Linked DNA regions of Homo sapiens: region 2 is linked to region 1. The links come from fine-mapping of genetic effects on gene expression. Tissue or cell type: whole blood. Region 1 holds a variant in brackets; the other region holds the start of a gene. All regions are shown on one strand. Distances are from middle to middle.

Evidence for each region. PIP is the estimated chance that this variant, and not a neighbour inherited with it, causes the effect.
Region 2: it holds the start of SLC35D2, and the variant in region 1 is fine-mapped to the expression of SLC35D2 in whole blood (TOPMed, PIP 0.98).

What each region holds. Positions count from the first base shown.
Region 1 is chr9:96,320,288-96,322,968 of GRCh38, forward strand. SLC35D2 (solute carrier family 35 member D2) reads right to left here. Exons shown (of 12, transcript NM_007001.3): 11 at 1,711-1,793; 12 at 423-1,054. The coding sequence ends at 955. It overlaps SLC35D2-HSD17B3 (SLC35D2-HSD17B3 readthrough), which reads right to left. Exons shown (of 26, transcript NR_182427.1): 11 at 1,711-1,793; 12 at 711-1,054. Among named protein-coding and RNA genes, the nearest start is that of HSD17B3, 19 kb to the left of the region's middle. The variant T/C (reference allele first, on the strand shown) is at 1,573.
Region 2 is chr9:96,382,435-96,385,115 of GRCh38, forward strand. SLC35D2 (solute carrier family 35 member D2) reads right to left here and starts at 1,277. Exons shown (of 12, transcript NM_007001.3): 1 at 1,043-1,277. The coding sequence starts at 1,200. SLC35D2-HSD17B3 (SLC35D2-HSD17B3 readthrough) reads right to left here and starts at 1,277. Exons shown (of 26, transcript NR_182427.1): 1 at 1,043-1,277. RefSeq lists silencers at 876-925, 936-1,265.

The sequences.
Region 1 (2,681 bases):
CAGATCACCTGAGGTCAGGAGTTCAAGACTAGCCTGGCCAACATGAGGCCAAACCTTGTCTCTACTAAAAATACAAAAATTAGCAGGGCGTGGTGGCAGATGCCTGTAATCCCAGCTACTCGGGAGGCTGAAGCAAGAGAATCACTTGAACCCGGGTGGCAGAGGCTGCAGTGAGCCGAGATTGCACCACTGCACTCCAACATGGGGAATAGAGTGAGACTCTGTCTCAAAAAAAAAAAAAAAATAGCTAACAGGATAAAGCCTGAGTATTTTTTTTTTCCCATTGAGTTACTTTGTAGCTTTCCCCAACCTCGAGTCATAAAGGAGTCTGGAATTGTCCCTTCAAGGTGACACATTCTGTTACATTGTGAATGATGGGCACCGTTTTCTGCCTCCAATAATATCACATGATGAGGCATACATAGAAATGATTTTTTATTTACTTTGATGATTAGGGAAAGATACCAACATAGCTTTCATCAAAGCTAACAAATAACTTTACTGGCAGTTAACTAATTTTATTAGACTAAAGACATGTCTGTTTAAACTGAAACAACTGGCCCTTTGCTTTGGCTGGGACCTTGGGAATCACGGCCAAGGTGCTGATCAGAAAAGAGTCACCATTACATCAACCTCCTCCCCAGCACACAGCACAGAGATGCCACGAAGGCCCCATAGGTCCCTAGAAGAGCAGCTGGGGCTCCACCTACCGAGTCCCAGTGGCTTATTTTGAAAAGATTTGCTTTCCACAGGTAAGGTGTCGCCCGAGTACATTTCTTGAGACTGCCATTGGCTCATCCTGCATATGAGGTAGTTCTCTTTGCATTTTGCAGATGCTCTCACTTGCCCAGGGGGTGGATGTCACGAATCCGAAACCTCTGGCTTCACATTCCTACTGGGAATGCCCCCCCAGCCCGCAGTCACAAGTCAGTCTCCAATCCTGCTGCAGACTCTTTAGCTCTTCAAATCCAAACAGATGTTTTCTTCACCCACAGGTTTAGGTTTTAACTGGCTGCTCAGTGTTAAAAAGGAATATCTCAAGCCCCCTGCCATGCTGAAAGGAGAAAAAAAAGTGAAAATAAATGACTGGGAATTTCACAGGGGCTCCAGCAGCAGTTGCTGGCGTTTTTATCAATACACCTGCTTCATGCGGAGGGAATTATTCCAATATCTGTGTTTCTCCTCAAGTTTGTGGATTGCTTGATGAGAATTTCCCCTTATTTACAAGCCTTTGGAGGCAGAAAAAGAGTCATCAAATCTAATGCAGAACCTCAGAGAGAAAATAAGCACTTGGTTTCTACTGAATAAACTACATACCCTTAGCCTTAAATAGTATCCCACTGCTGAGACCCCAAATGCCTTTCAAAGCTGGCTTAGTCCACACCCCCTGCATGCCGAGCCTAGTGGGCACAAAGGTTAACACCCTCCACTTTATAGGAGGAGGGCAGAGAACGCAGGGGCCTGCTGTGAGGAAGACAGGTGAGTTAAATTCCGATCCCAGCCCCGCAAACTGCCATCACACGTGTCCCCATGGATCTGCATGAGGATGAACCCAGTGATGAAGTAAAATTA[T/C]CTTAGAAATTAGAATGTCAAAACGCCTCCTGGCTTAACGTGAAAGACTTCTCCAGGCTCTTTTGCTTATTACATATTAATCAGAGTGTTTAAGGTTCTTGTCTTCCCAAAGCGAGTCCATTAAAAATTCCCACTCACCAAATATTTAACCCTACAAAGTTTAACAAAGAGAAAATGTAGTCTCCACCGATTAATATCCCAATGTAGGCAACGGATACATTCTGCAGAAAAAGAGAGAGGATTCGTCATTTTAAAAGTAAACTGTTTAGGGGAAAATATAAATAGTAAAACCTGAAACTAGACATTTTAGTTACTTTGCATAGAGACTTGTACATAGGGATATTCACAGGTGGTTGAACAAAATAAAAACCATTACAGGCCAGGAATGATGGCTCACGCCTGTAATCCCAATACTTTAGGAGGCCAAAGTCAAAGGATCACTTGAGCCCAGGAGTTTAAGACCAGCCTGGGCAACATAGTGAGATCCCATCTCTACAAAAAATTTTTTAAAAGTAGCCGGGCATGGTGGCACATGCCTGTAATCCCAGCTACTCCACACGGACTGAAGTGGGAGGATTGCTTGAGCCCAGGAAGTCAAGGCTGCAGTGAGCTACATGCCACTGTACTCCAGCCTGGGCAACAGAGCAAGACCCTGCCTCAGAAAAATAAATAAATAAGCCATTACATATGGGGCTTACTAAATAAATGCAGTAAATTATGGTATGATAACAACAGAAAATTGCATTATTCTCTCTCTTGATCCAGTTGGCATGCAGGCAAAAGAGGAAGAGTGGGGCTGTCATCAGCTTGCCAGGTTCCTATCTCTTTACTATCATTGGGTAGTGAGGTTTTCTGGGGTTTTTTTTTTTTTTTTTTTGAGACAGAGTCTCACTCTGTTGCCCAGGCTGGAGTGCAGTGGCACAATCTCAGCTCACTGCAACCTTTGCCTCCCAGGTTCAAGAGATTCTCCAGTCCAGCCTCCCAAGTAGCTGGGACTACAGGGCACTCACCACCACGCCTGGCTCATTTTTGTACTTTTAGTAGAGATGGTGTTTCGCCATACTGGCCAGGCTGGTCTCTAATTCCTGACCTCAGGTGATCCGCCTGCC
Region 2 (2,681 bases), 62 kb after region 1:
CAGAGTGAAACCTTGTCTCAAAAAAATATTATACACACACACACACACACACACACACACACTATATATATATATATATATATGCCTGCCTTGGCCTCCCAAATGCTGTGATTACAGGTGCAAACCACCTCAGCCAGCCTCAGCTTTCGTATTTTATATTCGAGAAAAGTGAGACCCACATAAGCTGAATCTGTATGTATATATAAAAAAAGAAAGCTGATACTCTAAGATACTCTCTAACTAAGACACTCTAGGTCTCTTTGGGCTCTAAAATGTTGATGGCATATTCTTGTAACATAGTAGAGTTTACAAAGAGCCTTCACATATAACAGCTCGTGCAGAGCCCTGGAGGGTAATTAACACGATTGTAATCATTCAGGTTTTTTGCATCTGAAAAAAATTGCTGACTGTGAGACTGGTCCAAAAAGACAGGTGTTAACCGGTGGAGCTGGGTCTAAATCCACAATTTTCTCAGTGCCGCTACAATGGTAGCAGAATTAAGCAGGATTTTCTAGTCCTTACAAATAGGTTCAAGGCAGCACAAATTTGCGTTTACTTCACACTAATCCAAAAAAGTACTCCATATGAACTTCCAATTGTTTTCCCGAGTTTTCCATGAACACGCTGGTCATCTGAGAATGAACAGTCAATCAATACAGACTTACTGGCTCAGGAGTACCTGACCGTTGAACATGGAGATCTGTGTAAGGAATTGCGTCCTTTGAAGCAGGCATTTGAATCCCTGTTTTCAGCTCGCTGGGTGTATGAAAGAATCTGTCTGAGCTCTACCAGCCCACCTAGGACAGGGCGCCTCGCAGCAGGGCAGGCGCGCTCAGGAAGAGAACGACTTTCTCAGGTTGTGGCCTGAGTGTAGAAAGCTGAGCGAGTTCTGGAGGGCGCCTGGGAAACTCGACCAATGTGCCCAGCTGAGACTCGAGGGTCCCTGTCCCCACCCGCCCTGTCCCGGGCGCCGCTGAAGCGCACGGAGGACAGGGGCAGCCCCGCACTCCCGCAGACCCCCCGGCCCCGGGCCCCGCCTCACCCGTAGGTGGTCAGCAGCGCCTTGTTGACAAGCACGATGAGGAAGGAGCAGGTCCCGTAGAAGAGCGCCGACAGCAGCCGGGCCACCCGCGAGGGCAGCCGCGCCGCGCCGGGCTCCCCGCCAGCGCCCTCGGCCTCGGCCTGGCCGCCGGCCGTCATCTCCTGCGGCCCCGCGGACCCCGCCGCCCGCCAGCCCCGGCTGCGCACTGGTCCCGCCCGGCCGGGCCGGGGAAGAGGGCGCGGCAGGAACAGGAAGAGCCCGGCGCAATCCCAGGTCCCGACCCGCCCCCTGCGAGCGCCCGAGGCCGGCGCGGGAGGACCCTGCGCGCTGGACTTCACCCTGGTTCCAGGCACCTCCTTCGGTCTCCAGGGCCGGCAATGCGCTGGGGAGTTGAAAAGCGCTGCCTTCCTCCAGGCTTTCCTGGAAAGAAACGCTTCAGTAAGTCTCAGGGCTTGTTTTGCTTTTTTTTTTTTTTCCCTACAACTTTTTTGTTTAGTGTATAATTTACATACAATGAAGTGTACACATCTTGCCAGTCCATAGTTTGAGATGAGCTTCGACAAAGGCATCCACAGGAGTAACTACTCAAAACAACATTTCCATCGCCCCAAAAATTCCCCTTGCTGCCCCTTTGAAGTTAACGCCCGCATCTCATCGATGACTATTGCTGTAGGTTAGGTTTGCCTTTTCCGGAATTTCAAATAAACAGGGTGCTTTCTAGAATTTATGAATGAGCATGTGGTCTCAGGGGTTTTCACTCTATGCTTTGGACTCGACCATGTGGTTTGTTTAATCGTTGAATAGTATCACAAATTGTGTATCCATTGGTTGTTTCCAGTTTAGGACCATTAGGAAAAATGCTTCCATGAAAATTCGTGGGCGTTTGTGGGACCTGTGTCTTCATTTCTCTTAAATAAATATCTAGGAGTGGAGTGGCTAGGAGTAAGGTGGGTGAAGCCTTGGGACTTGGGTGTCCTCTGGGTGCTTTGTGGTAGGTGCATTCCTCGCGGAGGGCCGTTTGCCTTCGGGTCAGGTCAGTTGAAGGACAGCTTCCCAGAACCGCCTACCCTTGTCAGTCTTTAAAAAATATGAACTTTTGGCCAGGCGCGGTGGCTCACACATGTAATCCCAGCACTTTGGGAGACCGAGGCGGGCAGATCACGAGGTCAGGAGATCGAGACCATCCTGGCTAACACGGTGAAACCCCGTCTCTACTAAAGATACAAAAAAAATTAGCCGGGCGTGGTGGCGGGCGCCTGTAGTCCCAGCTACTCAGGAGGCTGAGGCAGGAGAATGGCGTGAACCCGGGAGGCAGAGCTTGCAGTGAGGCGAGATCGCGCCACTGCACTCCAGCCTGGGCGACAGAGCAAGCCTCCGTCTCAAAAATATATATATTATATATTTAATATATAATGTATATTATATATATATATATATATGAACTTTTAGCTTCTTAGAAAAGCTTAAGATTTCAAGTTAAATAAAAGTTGGGGCCTAACTATATAGATGCCCAGAGAATTGTTTTTCTACCCTTAGGCACTAAACAACCAGGAGAATGAAAACTGGGAAACATTTTCAGCCCTGATAAGAACTAAAGCAGAACTCGTGAAAATTAGCTAGCATTAAAAAGACCAGAAGT